Linked DNA regions of Homo sapiens. The protein of the gene in region 2 interacts with the protein of the main gene of each other region in a biochemical or structural test. Each region holds a gene or a part of one and is shown on either strand. Other genes may lie near its edges.

Region 1 (7,461 bases), on a different chromosome or scaffold from region 2:
GACAGGGTAAAAACAGTTTTCTATCCCTTTTTCATCTTTTCAGTTCAGCAACAGCCTGAAACACTTTGGGATTCAAGGAAATTACATGGCTATAGCAAAAAATATACCAAATCAATACACAGGATAATTAGAAATTATTCATTGTGTTCCAGTAGTTTAAGGATGTAGATGTTGCCAAGAGAATTTTTAAATGAGGGTTTTGTTTTTCATCAGAACTGTTTTTCTCTGTACTTGAGAAATTATAATGCATAAACAAATGCCACTTTGTTCCCTAGATTCATTTCAAATGTCACATCGAAATTACAGTAAAATTGACTTTGGGCACACTATGAACTGAGATGATGGGATTATATTCTACATCTCACTAACTTCTAACCCACAGGGATCCATTTTTTTAACTATGTCCTTTTAACTTTTGTAGTGATCGTTTTACACTGAGTGATCAATTAGCCTATCCACTAGGTAGAAAGTATTGCTGATTTTCACAGTTTTAGACATATTATGCACATGGTTTGAGGCTTGAGCTGTTTTCAAGGACAACATTGTTAAGTGCTCCATTTCTTCTCTTTGCAGGACAACTGTCCATTCCATTACAACCCAGCTCAGTATGACTATGACAGAGATGATGTGGGAGACCGCTGTGACAACTGTCCCTACAACCACAACCCAGATCAGGCAGACACAGACAACAATGGGGAAGGAGACGCCTGTGCTGCAGACATTGATGGAGACGGTAAGGTGCTGCCTGATCAGAGGGCCCGCGGGAGACAGGGACATGCACAGCTTTCCAAACGTACTTCTGTCTAGTCCTGGCTATTAGTATGCACTTTGGTGGAAACATCCAAGGCTGGAGAGCCCAGCTCTTATTTGTCCCTTGTTCTCTTCAGGTATCCTCAATGAACGGGACAACTGCCAGTACGTCTACAATGTGGACCAGAGAGACACTGATATGGATGGGGTTGGAGATCAGTGTGACAATTGCCCCTTGGAACACAATCCGGATCAGGTAGGTGGATGGACTCCTTTCAGAGTCTTTCAGTAAACTGTTGGAATATCCCTTTCATGGCCTTTGAAAAATGAGCTTAACAAAGTTCAAACACTTTCATTACTGTGGCTCCCTGGCTTCTCATAGCCAACTGGAATACGTTCATGTAAATAATTTGCCTGATGTGAGCTCCTTGCACAGAGTCTCACAGATCTTTAGCATGAAGATCTGGTAACTTCAGTCTTACCTTCTGTAAGAAGGGCTACTGGACTTGCTCAGCATCGTCTACCATTGTTAAGACAAATTATACAAAGCAGACATCTGTGACTGACAACTGTACAATAATATTAATCATATGTAATACTAAGAGATGGAAAAATAAATGTGCATAAGCAAAATAACCATTTTCATGGCTAATGATGTAATCTAGCTATAAGAAAATCATCAAACTAAGGATACATCCAAAACCAAAGTAATTTATCCCTGTCATAAACATTACCCAGACAGTATACAACACAGGGACCAGTGGTCTGTTTCCATCTTTTCAGGACTTTTCAGAGAAGTCGACGTGTCAACAGTTTTACAACTGAAACCTTCTAAGGAAATTCTCTGTTATAAAGTATCCAGAAAATTTCATTTAACATTAAGATGTAAACAGTTAACATTTCATTTCATCTTTAGTAATTAAATATCACTCTATTTGACCTTATTTAGAAAGTTTTATATGTAAAACATTTTTAAATTATCCCTTCTCAGATTTTTATACGAAAACAAAGATAAAGGAAAAAAACTTTTAAAATGTAATTGCTACTATTGCTATCTTTCTGCAGGAGTGTGTAAATAGACATGACACCCCACTGGCTGTATCAAACAATGGAGAATTTTCCCTGTGGTGGGGGCATAAGTTATCTTTAACATGAATGGTTTATACTGCAATTTACCCTCCATTTACATCTCTCTTTCAGCTGGACTCTGACTCAGACCGCATTGGAGATACCTGTGACAACAATCAGGATATTGATGAAGATGGCCACCAGAACAATCTGGACAACTGTCCCTATGTGCCCAATGCCAACCAGGCTGACCATGACAAAGATGGCAAGGGAGATGCCTGTGACCACGATGATGACAACGATGGCATTCCTGATGACAAGGACAACTGCAGACTCGTGCCCAATCCCGACCAGAAGGACTCTGACGGTGAGTCATGGGAGCCACTTTCTAAGACAGGGACTGCTGGCACAGCTGTGTAGATTGAAGAAATGAAACCAAGGCTCAAAGCATTTGACAGGATGAAGGGACCAAATGCCAACTTAGACAAGATAGTGACATTTCTGACACCAGTAATAATAATAGCACTTTAGAATTTTGCTGAACTCTTGCTTTTTTGACCTCAGGCGATGGTCGAGGTGATGCCTGCAAAGATGATTTTGACCATGACAGTGTGCCAGACATCGATGACATCTGTCCTGAGAATGTTGACATCAGTGAGACCGATTTCCGCCGATTCCAGATGATTCCTCTGGACCCCAAAGGGACATCCCAAAATGACCCTAACTGGGTTGTACGCCATCAGGGTAAAGAACTCGTCCAGACTGTCAACTGTGATCCTGGACTCGCTGTAGGTGAGTAGCGAGTTCTTAGATCCTAAGAGACTGATGCATACATGGGGAAAAACAAATATAAAACCTGGCAGTTGTACCTATCCCTGTGGGTGCTGAGGATGTCTAGGAACATGATGGAGAACCTTCTGAAGGCTGCAGGTTTTAACCTGGCTCTGGGCTCTTCTTCCAGGTTATGATGAGTTTAATGCTGTGGACTTCAGTGGCACCTTCTTCATCAACACCGAAAGGGACGATGACTATGCTGGATTTGTCTTTGGCTACCAGTCCAGCAGCCGCTTTTATGTTGTGATGTGGAAGCAAGTCACCCAGTCCTACTGGGACACCAACCCCACGAGGGCTCAGGGATACTCGGGCCTTTCTGTGAAAGTTGTAAACTCCACCACAGGGCCTGGCGAGCACCTGCGGAACGCCCTGTGGCACACAGGAAACACCCCTGGCCAGGTAAGAAGCAAAGCCCTGGAACAGAGAGAGAGCTTATGGGTGCCTGACTAGCACTGGGGATGCTGTGCTTTGACCAAGACTCTGACCAGGGAGTCTTAGAAAGTTCCCAGCATCACCAGCTGCAGCATTGAACTCTGCTTTGTAAAAACATAATAGTGTTGAAAAGGGAGCTTGACCAAGAATTGCCCTGCAAATCCTAAGGTGCCTTCAGCCTTTTCAAACAAAAAAACCTCCTTCCCTCCTCTCTGTCTGCTTTATATGTGTGCTCAGTGGCACACAACAAATATGAGAGGACTTGGAAAAATTCCCCATTGCAGCCCTCTAACTTAGATCAGCTCAGTACCTTTCAAGCATTGTTTCTGATGGAATGAAATAGAAATCTTTACCTGAAGGAGCTGTGTTTCAACCTTTCCTTTTCCTTTTCCTTCAGGTGCGCACCCTGTGGCATGACCCTCGTCACATAGGCTGGAAAGATTTCACCGCCTACAGATGGCGTCTCAGCCACAGGCCAAAGACGGGTTTCATTAGGTACGATCATACTGATTCACTTTCACTTACAGTCACACTGAGGGACAAAAAGACAAAAAGTATTAAATAGCATTGTCACTAAACAAGATTTTTTTTCCCTGCAGAGTGGTGATGTATGAAGGGAAGAAAATCATGGCTGACTCAGGACCCATCTATGATAAAACCTATGCTGGTGGTAGACTAGGGTTGTTTGTCTTCTCTCAAGAAATGGTGTTCTTCTCTGACCTGAAATACGAATGTAGAGGTAAGAGCAACATCACCATGAATGTACACTGGACATCTCTATTTCAGACTAATATCAAGGATGACGGTTATGGGGGAGTCCAGTGTAAAGACTGTTTTGGAGACAGGGTTATTTCTATTTTGCTTTTGAGGACACAAGGACAAAAATGGAATAATGCCTAGGCACTGTGGCTTATGAGTTCCTGAGTCCTTAGCTATAATATTAGTTTGCTTAGCAATCTCTGTGCTCCTCATACACAGTGCAAAGGTAAGCTGCAGAAAAGCTCCTATATAATTTGGACTTCATTAATAATACTGTTCTTTACAATTATATATTTATATATCTTACTGCTTATTGTTTTATGCATGCCATCACAGCACGAGTTAGCATTCCCAACTTTTCCCTGTATACAAAGAAGGGAGAGGAATGTTGCTTTCATATTGGCATGTTAAATTAATGTTCACTATTAAACTTAGCATTTTTTTTCCTCATTCTTTTTTACTTAGTCATTACTTAAGCTCGCTGAGTCCAACACTGGCTCTACCACAAAATAAGTGCTTAATATATATTTACTGGGCCAAGGCCAGATACCTAAAAGATCAATGACAGTAGAGAAAGATGGTTGATTTTACTCAAAAAAATCTAAATTATTAATGTAATTTTTGAGTCCAAATTTTTAAAATAAGACTCCCTAAACTGTTAACATTGAAAGCCTTTGGAAAGCATAATATATGTTCTGGAAGGTTCACGCTGTGTCGGTCTCCTAGCATCAATGTCAGCTAATAAAATTAAATGCTAATGTGCTTGAACAACCTTAAAATTAGGCTTTTGTCATTAGAAAAGTAGAGCTATTCCTATGTGGTTAACTTATTAACTAAGATGTCTATGCTTTTATGAATTAGTTTTCATTTGTATATTTATTTATATTTGTTTATTTAACAGATCCCTAATCATCAAATTGTTGATTGAAAGACTGATCATAAACCAATGCTGGTATTGCACCTTCTGGAACTATGGGCTTGAGAAAACCCCCAGGATCACTTCTCCTTGGCTTCCTTCTTTTCTGTGCTTGCATCAGTGTGGACTCCTAGAACGTGCGACCTGCCTCAAGAAAATGCAGTTTTCAAAAACAGACTCAGCATTCAGCCTCCAATGAATAAGACATCTTCCAAGCATATAAACAATTGCTTTGGTTTCCTTTTGAAAAAGCATCTACTTGCTTCAGTTGGGAAGGTGCCCATTCCACTCTGCCTTTGTCACAGAGCAGGGTGCTATTGTGAGGCCATCTCTGAGCAGTGGACTCAAAAGCATTTTCAGGCATGTCAGAGAAGGGAGGACTCACTAGAATTAGCAAACAAAACCACCCTGACATCCTCCTTCAGGAACACGGGGAGCAGAGGCCAAAGCACTAAGGGGAGGGCGCATACCCGAGACGATTGTATGAAGAAAATATGGAGGAACTGTTACATGTTCGGTACTAAGTCATTTTCAGGGGATTGAAAGACTATTGCTGGATTTCATGATGCTGACTGGCGTTAGCTGATTAACCCATGTAAATAGGCACTTAAATAGAAGCAGGAAAGGGAGACAAAGACTGGCTTCTGGACTTCCTCCCTGATCCCCACCCTTACTCATCACCTGCAGTGGCCAGAATTAGGGAATCAGAATCAAACCAGTGTAAGGCAGTGCTGGCTGCCATTGCCTGGTCACATTGAAATTGGTGGCTTCATTCTAGATGTAGCTTGTGCAGATGTAGCAGGAAAATAGGAAAACCTACCATCTCAGTGAGCACCAGCTGCCTCCCAAAGGAGGGGCAGCCGTGCTTATATTTTTATGGTTACAATGGCACAAAATTATTATCAACCTAACTAAAACATTCCTTTTCTCTTTTTTCCTGAATTATCATGGAGTTTTCTAATTCTCTCTTTTGGAATGTAGATTTTTTTTAAATGCTTTACGATGTAAAATATTTATTTTTTACTTATTCTGGAAGATCTGGCTGAAGGATTATTCATGGAACAGGAAGAAGCGTAAAGACTATCCATGTCATCTTTGTTGAGAGTCTTCGTGACTGTAAGATTGTAAATACAGATTATTTATTAACTCTGTTCTGCCTGGAAATTTAGGCTTCATACGGAAAGTGTTTGAGAGCAAGTAGTTGACATTTATCAGCAAATCTCTTGCAAGAACAGCACAAGGAAAATCAGTCTAATAAGCTGCTCTGCCCCTTGTGCTCAGAGTGGATGTTATGGGATTCTTTTTTTCTCTGTTTTATCTTTTCAAGTGGAATTAGTTGGTTATCCATTTGCAAATGTTTTAAATTGCAAAGAAAGCCATGAGGTCTTCAATACTGTTTTACCCCATCCCTTGTGCATATTTCCAGGGAGAAGGAAAGCATATACACTTTTTTCTTTCATTTTTCCAAAAGAGAAAAAAATGACAAAAGGTGAAACTTACATACAAATATTACCTCATTTGTTGTGTGACTGAGTAAAGAATTTTTGGATCAAGCGGAAAGAGTTTAAGTGTCTAACAAACTTAAAGCTACTGTAGTACCTAAAAAGTCAGTGTTGTACATAGCATAAAAACTCTGCAGAGAAGTATTCCCAATAAGGAAATAGCATTGAAATGTTAAATACAATTTCTGAAAGTTATGTTTTTTTTCTATCATCTGGTATACCATTGCTTTATTTTTATAAATTATTTTCTCATTGCCATTGGAATAGATATCTCAGATTGTGTAGATATGCTATTTAAATAATTTATCAGGAAATACTGCCTGTAGAGTTAGTATTTCTATTTTTATATAATGTTTGCACACTGAATTGAAGAATTGTTGGTTTTTTCTTTTTTTTGTTTTGTTTTTTTTTTTTTTTTTTTTTGCTTTTGACCTCCCATTTTTACTATTTGCCAATACCTTTTTCTAGGAATGTGCTTTTTTTTGTACACATTTTTATCCATTTTACATTCTAAAGCAGTGTAAGTTGTATATTACTGTTTCTTATGTACAAGGAACAACAATAAATCATATGGAAATTTATATTTATACTTACTGTATCCATGCTTATTTGTTCTCTACTGGCTTTATGTCATGAAGTATATGCGTAAATACCATTCATAAATCAATATAGCATATACAAAAATAAATTACAGTAAGTCATAGCAACATTCACAGTTTGTATGTGATTGAGAAAGACTGAGTTGCTCAGGCCTAGGCTTAGAATTTGCTGCGTTTGTGGAATAAAAGAACAAAATGATACATTAGCCTGCCATATCAAAAACATATAAAAGAGAAATTATCCCTAAGTCAAGGGCCCCCATAAGAATAAAATTTCTTATTAAGGTCATTAGATGTCATTGAATCCTTTTCAAAGTGCAGTATGAAAACAAAGGGAAAAACACTGAAGCACACGCAACTCTCACAGCGACATTTTCTGACCCACGAATGATGCCTTGGGTGGGCAACACGATTGCATGTTGTGGAGACACTTCGGAAGTAAATGTGGATGAGGGAGGAGCTGTCCTTGCAATGTTGAGCCAAGCATTACAGATACCTCCTCTTGAAGAAGGAATAATAAGTTTAATCAAAAAAGAAGACTAAAAAATGTAAAATTTGGAAGGAATCCATAAATGCGTGTGTGTCTAAATACAAATTATCA
Region 2 (8,381 bases):
AGGAACTGCTGGGTCTCTGCAAAGCTCTCTCTTCATGAAGGCCCAAACGCTTGTAAGGAAATGCCTTATTAATGCTCACAATATCCCCTAGGAAGAGGGTGTGGGAAAAAGAGAAGTACTATTATGCCTCTCTTGCAAATGAGAAAATTGAAGCAGAAACAATTACAGGCCTTGCCCAATACGAGGCAGTCACCACTGAGGCCAAAAATGAAACAAAATTGTCTTGGTTCCTTCCACGATATTCACTGGCCAAAATTAAAAGTCTCTCTTCAGTTACCTCTGGTCACTGCAGGGTTCAAGGACAATTATCATTTGAGACAACTTTTTGGATAGGAATTCTCTTACTAAGCTTCCCACACCTACTCATTTGAATTTCATCCCTTTTCCCTCTTCCCTTTTTGACATAGACAAGTCGGGGCATAGACAATCTTCAAATGAAAAAACAAAGAACTGGAAATATCAGAGTAGATTATATTATAACTACATTAGAATCAAGTTATGAATGAATTCTCCCATAGTAATACTAGTGGCAATAAAGATGACTGCCACATATTGATTACCTATTCTGTGCCTGATACTATGCTAAGTGCTTTATACTTGGTCCTACAATAATACACATGCAGAGACAAATCCAGGTTTTGTGGGTCCTGAAGCTTATACAATTTGAAGGGTCCTTCTTAAGAAAAAAGAAAATTTGGGATATAGAATGAGGTACAGGGCTTCGCAAGGGTCTGTGCAAGTGAGAGACCCAAAGCTTAACTTTGCGAGTTTCATGGTAAATGCATCACTGTGCCCAAGTTAGCTAACAGCTCATATCCCCAGTTTTACAAGCAATGAAATTGAGGACCAAGTAAGTTATTTGACGTAAGTCATAAAGCTTATACTGGCAAGGATAGGATTTGAACATATGGAATCTGACTCCAAATCTCACGTATTTTCTTTGTGTGGCTTCTAATAAAAATAAAGTTGCTATCACCTATTAAGCACTAACTATATCCCAGAAAGATCACACCTTAAGGTTATAAGAATTATTTGACAAAGCAGATGTGATCGTTAGTCCTTATTATCCCTATTTACAGATGGGGAAAACATGAATCAAGTAAGATTAAACAGCCCACGGTCACCGAGCTGGGACATAGTGGAAGCTAGGTTTCATGCCCAGGAGTGTAACATCCTCAATCTTTCCCACTGTCCCATGCTACCTACCACCCTACAGGTAATCCAGGAAAAAGCAGAATAGCGATGTGTGACTTACCTCTAATGACAACAGTATTTCCACACCTGCCCACTGAAACTAGCCCTGTCCTTTAGTTTCATACAATACACCGTGCAGTCCTCCTTAGCTGGGATTGAGCAGCTCTGAAAGTCCACTTCCCTGTACTATTACTTATCAGAACAGAGTCCATTCCTCATGGAGAAAAACACTTGGAAATATCAACACAAACTCAGGCCCCAGCCAAGTTGCCTTACAGCCACCCCCTCACCCAGAGAAATGGAGACACACAGAGAATCTAAGGGCTGGCTATATGGGAACCACGGGGAAGATCACTCATCCTATAGGGCTCCTTGAAACAGCCTTTCAAGGCCATATAAGAAAACTCACATATTTACTATAATTGGATTGCTTTACTCTAGTCACCCAAAGCAAGAGTTTACATCCTCAAACACAGCTCACCATGGATTTGGACATGGACAGGAGTGGAGAAAGGATTCAGTTTCTTTTTTCCTTGAACATGATTGCTCAAAGGAAACTGACCCTCGAGACGCTCAGACAGTGGGCCTTGTCTTCCCTTGGCAATGTGAACTTTAAAAATTACATTATGCTTTGCCATGGTGCTTTTTGAAAAACTGCCTTTAACTGCCAGATTTCAGGTACTCACTTAATTACTTTTGGAAACTCAGTTAAAGGAAGATATCCATTGCCACCTGGAATAAAATAGCTTTACTGACTGGAGAGTGCAGTGATTCAAAGTAGACTAGGCCTGGGCTTTTTTATCTGGCCGCAGCAAGTGCAGACCAGTGGGAGAAATGAAGCGTGCAGTTATGGATGCTAACAAGAAAGGCTGCTGCTCCAGTGATTATTTTTCTTTTTTAAGGAAAAAATGATCCCAGTAATTCTCTTTTGTTCCTCTTTTGACACAGCTTGGTGGATGTGGGGGAAAGGGCAGATGAAATGACCAGTGAAATCAAAAGATGAAGTCTTCTTAAAGGACTGGCTCTCCAGCCCAATCATCTAGAGGAAGAGACAAGTTCAGATTCTTGTAGGGTATCTAAATGCATCTGTGCCTGAAAATTATGGCCGTTTGAGAAAAACAAGAATTCATGGTGAGACAAAGCAACACAGACTGTTGGTACAAGATACAAAGCCACTAAGTCAGCGTTCAGCAAAGACTGATGGATGAATTGTCACCCAGCCTAAAGGACTGGCCCAGCTACCAACTGCCCCTGCCCAGCCCAAGAGGGCAAGAACACAATAGACCGCACACCCACGTCTCATCCCCAGGCGCACACCACTTCAAAGGCTACAGCAAGCAGACAACATAACCTGCCTCTTCTGCGGTGTCTTTCATTCAGTTCTGTTTCTTCATGAAGTGGGAAGGAAACAAGTTTGGGCCCACCTGAGATTGGGGTGTAGACGGAAGGAGTGGGGAGAGATGCAAACGACAGAACACAACCGAAGGCCTTTTTAAAAGTCAGGATCCATAGCCTTACTTATCACTGTAAAGGGAACAGAGTCGGCTCCATCCTTCCTCATCCTTCTTTAACCCTCGCCTACCAAGCCCTGGAAGACAGGGACGCAAGAAGAGCTCTAGCGCGGAGGGTCTGCCTGAGTGCTGGTCTTTCCCATACAAGATGTAGCAGCAGGGATGGGAGGGTGAGCTGGACGACTCCACAACACACACACAGCCCGCCCCGCCTCACCTTCTCGATACTCTGGTCTACAGCCTTCTGGAAGACCCGGGCCACCAGCAGCGTGACGCTGGTCACCAGCAGGAGCAGGGACAACGTCCCCGCCGTGTAGAAGCAGCATCGGCCCATTCTGTGCGCCGCTCACGGGCCGGGCCGGGCCGCACCCGCCAGGGATCCAACTGCAAGGAGGGAGGAGCCGCCGCAGAGGCGTCGAAGACCCGGGACCCTTCGGCGCCACGCCCACGCCCTCCCGGCGCACGGTTCGTGCGCGCAGCTCTGGGCTCCGCGGCCTGGCGAGCGCGGCCCCGGGTGCACCGGGCGGATGGGGCCGCGGAGGGACGGGCCCGGACTCGGTTTCGGTTTCCTTCGCCGGGCAGCCGTGGCGCCCGCCTAGCGCAGCTCGGGAGAGTGCAGGGAGCGCGCAGGGACGTGACGTTCGCGGGCCGGGCTCGCCGCAACCCCGCGAGGCAACCGCCGGCGACTGCGCGGGGAGGCGGGCGGGGGCGGAGGCCGCAGTCATGTGCCCTGCGGCGGCGGCAGTGATTCGGCCCGCGCCCTCCCCGGCCGGTCCCCGGTGGCCCTGAGTGGCTGCGGCGCCTGAGCCAGGCCCGGCCTGGCCGCTCCCAGCGCCCTGCACCGCAGGCCCAGCGCTCGCCCCACCGAAATTGCCGAACCTGGTTCACACACTCATTTACTCATTCCGCAGATAGGTCTGAGGGCCTCCCATGGGCCACGCGCTGGGGATTCAAGGTGGCTGGGACATTCCCCTGCTCTAGAGGCGCTCGCAAGTTAGCGGGGACACCGTTACCGCAATTACAACACAATGTAGCAAGTGCTTCTACCAGGTGCCTGCTGAGATCATGCCAGCAAGCATGTTCTGCCTGGATGACCTAGGGCCCCACATTGAACTGGGGCCTGGGGGATGCATAAGTTTGTCACGTAAGGGGCATGTGCAAGAATGGAAGATGTGCAAAAAAGGGAGGAGGAGGCATTTCACGGAGAAGGAAACGGTGAGCAAAGGCATTGGGGGTGAAAGAGCAAAACCTGTAGGAAGCAAGAAGGAAGTTCCTTTTGACTGTAGGCTCAGGTGTTCAGGGGGTGGAGTCGGAGGTGTTGAGGCCCCAAGAGGTCAGACTTTGAAGGGCTCTTGGTATCCTGTTAAAGATGTGGAAGTTGGGAAGGAGCTTAAAGCAGGCATCGCTGGTGTTCTTGCCTGCTTTGCTCACTGTGGTGTCCCAGACACCCAGGACCAAGACCTGCACACAGCCAGGACTCAAGAAGTGTTCGTTAAATGAGTGTTTCTTCTACGCCAGCCCTTTACTAGTTTCTTTGCACAGTTCTACTCATTTAATACCCTTGGCAGTCCTATGAATAGGAGGTTGTGTTTGTCCCAGTCCTCCAGAAACAGTCCCAGATGGGGGTACTATGCAAGAGAGTTTTGAGGGAAAACAGGGAGCTGGACCTGGGATGCAGGTGTGATCCTTGTGAAGGAAAGAGGCAAGCAAGGAAGGAAGGTTGGGTGGAAGGAAGCATTTGATATATATACAGTCCATGTATAAAAAGTTCAGCAAGGCCATTGGGGTGGGGAATCCTTTAGCCAAATGGGCTTGTCCCAGAAGTCTGGCATCTCCCAGAAAGAGGCCCGCCTTAGTATCCCTGCTGTGCTCAGTCATGAGCTGGGAGCAGCCTTAGGAAGCTGGCCTTTGCAGCAACCTAGGGATAAATATCAGGGTATGGATTTCAGCAGAGCTCAGCAGTTGAGGCGGAGCCATTGGTCAGTTATGCTATCTACACTGCAAGATCCAAGAAGTACATTTTCTTGGCAACTATAGTGTATTATCCTCATTTTACACTCAAGAACACTGGGGCTCTGAGTTAAGTAACCTAACAAGCTCAACTGGTTGCTGAGTGGTGGATCCTGCTTGAACCAGGATGTAGGGCTGGCTGTTGGCTTCCAAAACCCTCACTTTTTCTACTCTGCGCATTGCTGCATCCCGATCTGTCACTAATGAGAATCTGAGGACAGCAAATCAGTTAGGAGGCTTTGTTGAGGACTTGGTGAGATAGCATGATGGTTTAAAAATGGTGGCAAATTATTTGTTACTCCTTTCGTTGAGAGGTGGGGTCTATACTTTCTCGCTTTGAATTTGGGCAGGTTTTAGCAATTTGTTAAACCAATAGAATACAGTGGAAATGACCATATCCTGGAACTTCTGAAGCTAGATCATAAATGCCTTGCAACTTCTGCTGGGGCCTTTGCAAATTCTTGCTCTTGGAGCCTCAAGTCACCCCTAAGTTCAGCTACCCGGAGACTGCTGCAGAGAACATGGGAAAGACTGTGGGGAGAAGCCCTGAGTCTGTAGGAAGAGAAATGTCCCACCAGTCCCCAGCTGTCCCTAGCCTTTTGAGTCACAGGCCCTAGACATTACAGAGCAGAGGTGAGTGGTCCCTGCTGAGCCCTGCTCAAAATGCAAAATAAAGGATTGTTGTTGTTTAAGCCACTGAGTGTTGGTGTGGTAGGTTACTCAGTAGATAACTGGAGCAGATGGTAAGGGCAGAACTGAGGCTGGGACATTTTGTAGCTACCAAAGCTCTTCAAGCAGCAGCCCCAGAGGACCAGTCCTGTGTTCAAATAGAACCTGGTGGGGTCCTGAATGATTCAACTGTCCCCAGCCTGATGGGTGGGTGGTCTCCAGTCCTCAGGTGTCCACAATCGGCAGCCTTTCTCTTCCCCTAATCCTGCCTCTTCTCTGCTGTTAAGTTTCAGTTAGCTACATTAACTCTGCTCTGTGCCCCAGTTTGCTTAAGGAGCAATGCTAGCCCACTAACCCTCACATGTCCCCTACCTAGGCATTGGTTGAAGTCCTCCTGTCATCTATATGTCCTCTCCTTCCCTAACTAGAAAAAAAAATTTGGTAACTTGCCTGCCTAGGTACTTTGGCACTCAGAAGTTCATGCTCACACTGAACTTCCACCCCCTACTCTCTGACTGCTACAATCAGATTTTCTGTTTGCGGGCTCCATTCTGGAGGGCAAACTCCATAGGTACCCACTCCTCCCATCCCTGGACCACCAATCCCAGGGTACTCTTCCTTTTCATTGTTCATTGAGGTCCCTTCTTCTCTCTTGTCTGGGCCACCAGGACAGTAACAGACTGTGGGGATGGAGAGATGGAGACAAATTTGATAAATGTATCTTAGTGTGGGAGAGTTTCTAAACAAGGGTTTACAGCTCAAGTTGCCCTCAGTTTACCTGCTCTCTGAGGATCTCACTCTGTTTCCACTATGTCAGGCGGTTAGTAAGCCACTTCCCCTTTAAAACTCTGGACAAGCCGAATGAAAATCTCTTTCTTGGTTCTTCTTAACACAGCTGACCAGGCTAGCATTTTTAAATGTGTTAACATAAGACAGAACAAAAAGGACCTAATTACAGAAAATATAAACAGCTTTTAAGAAAATAATGTATGTTCCCAAAATAGCAGTCTGTGATCCCACAGTAATCTCTGTCTTATCACCGAGGCTGGCATAACTTTTTAGCAGCTGGCCTGGCTGTCTTTCTGTTCAGTTCCATCTTCTCTACCCACAGCTATGTTCAGAAGCTTTTGACACAAAGCCCCAAAATCCAGATTTAAGTTTCTCAATGCCCTTTGGGACTTCCTCCTCATTTCTGATCTATAGGACATGTCTGCACCGCTAATTGGCATTGTTAGTTTATTGCCACAGGATCATCTCACCCTATGAGAGACTTTGCCCTCTCATCCAGGGAGTAGCCCCTGCTTGCCAGCCACTAATAACCCTGAACACACTCTGGAGGGGCAGACAGCTTGGGAAGGGGTTACTGCTCCCAGAGTTTAGATGAGGAGGCTGATGCCAGGGCAGGGAGACAATCAGGACTCTTCCTGGTGACTTCTCTGCTATGGTTTGGATTTGTGTTCCCTCCAAATCTCATGTTGAAATTTGATCCCCAGTGTTGGAGGTGGGGCCTAATGGGAGGTGTTTGGGTCCTGAGGAGAGATTGTTCATGAATAGATTAATGCCTCCCTCAGGCATGAGTGAGTTGTCAGAGAGCGGGTTGTTGAAAAGAGCTGGCACCTCCTCCTTCTCTCTCTAGCTTCCTCTCTGCCCATGTGCCTCACACAGGTGTGCTCCCTTTCTGCCTTCCCAGGAGTGGAAGCAGCCTGAGGCCCTCATCCAATGCAGATGTCTGTGCCGTGCGTCTTGTCCAGCCTGCAGAACCATGAGCCAAATAAACCTCTTTTCACTACCCAATCTCAGGTATTGTTATAGCAACACAAACAGACAAGGGCGGAAAATGAGGAGACTGATGCTGTGGCAAGGAGATACGGTGATCTCTCTATACCTAAAATCAGAAGACTTTATCTGAGAAGAACAAGTACACTTAATGAATGATTGCTGGTGCCTGTTGAAATTATGCAATCATTCGGGACTTAGAAAAAGAGCTTTCTTCACAGACTCTAAGGGCTATCGAGGGGAAGCAAGAGGGCTCTTTGGGCTCTACCTTAAATTTAGAATGTTGATACTATACTCAAATGAGTTTAATGATGTAGTCATTGTATACTTTTATGTTCAAAGTGTTAATGTGTTAAATATAAACATTTAAAATACACCACAGGCCGGGCCAGGTGGCTCATGCCTGTAATCCCAGCATTTTGGGAAGCCAAGGCAGGAGAATCACTTGATCCCAGGAGTTTGAATGGAAATGGCCCTAGGCCTTGCCTACTTTGGGACAGGTCAGGCTCCAAGATACTTCTAAAAGTCTTGGCTTTCTTCTTATTGAAGGTGATCTATAAAATGTACCATCACACCCTAGTGATTTGACATATGTTATTCCTAAATGTTTGTGGGGCATCCTAAATCCTGAGCAATACAGCCTCCATAAGAAAAAATTACTCTCTCCTCCCTCCTCCCCTACCCATCATTCCAAAGTTCTTACATTACAGAACTGCTTTATGCAGATAGGCTTACATATCCCAGAGGAGAGCTCATATACCATTTATATTATATCACATGCACCTGTGCCAGGCCACAGGGACTCTCTGTGAAGTTACCCATGTCCCTGTCTACCGCCTCCTCCGATCAAGAAGACCTCATGGCTTCCTCATTATCATCTTTGCACCCCCAACTAGGGGAATCTTTTCCAGTTTGTTTTGGTTTGGTTTGGTTTTTATTTTGTTTGGGGTTATGGGAAAATGAGAATTCCCCTCTTCAAATTCTTATTTTCCTTTTTGTTCCCCTAATAATGCAGACTTATTGAAACACGGAACTAGGAGGAGATATCCTATTCACCTTTTTCTCTTCCCTTTCCTGAAAACACAAGCGTAGTGTTGTCTAACTAATAGAATGTGTGGTTGGAGGGCGAGGAGTCAGGAGATCAAAGAGGAGAAAAATATAGTGGGCAAAAAGGGTGAATATGTCAGCAATATTATCTGCTACTTGTACATAGTACTTGTA

Evidence for each region. Proteins that work in one complex are often made in the same cells at the same time.
Region 1: the proteins of SCARB2 (region 2) and THBS1 form a complex in vitro, tested with the Homo sapiens proteins (one study listed by BioGRID).

What each region holds. Positions count from the first base shown.
Region 1 is NC_000015.10:39,590,618-39,598,078, forward strand, and holds part of THBS1 (thrombospondin-1 precursor), read left to right. Parts: coding exon 1-6; intron 7-573; coding exon 574-733; intron 734-887; coding exon 888-1,006; intron 1,007-1,950; coding exon 1,951-2,185; intron 2,186-2,382; coding exon 2,383-2,610; intron 2,611-2,779; coding exon 2,780-3,051; intron 3,052-3,481; coding exon 3,482-3,579; intron 3,580-3,683; coding exon 3,684-3,823; intron 3,824-4,744; coding exon 4,745-4,752; 3' UTR 4,753-7,461. UniProt on the Homo sapiens protein: Adhesive glycoprotein that mediates cell-to-cell and cell-to-matrix interactions.
Region 2 is NC_000004.12:76,210,505-76,218,885, forward strand, and holds the start of SCARB2 (lysosome membrane protein 2), read right to left. Parts: upstream 3,321-8,381; 5' UTR 3,040-3,320; coding exon 2,923-3,039; intron 1-2,922.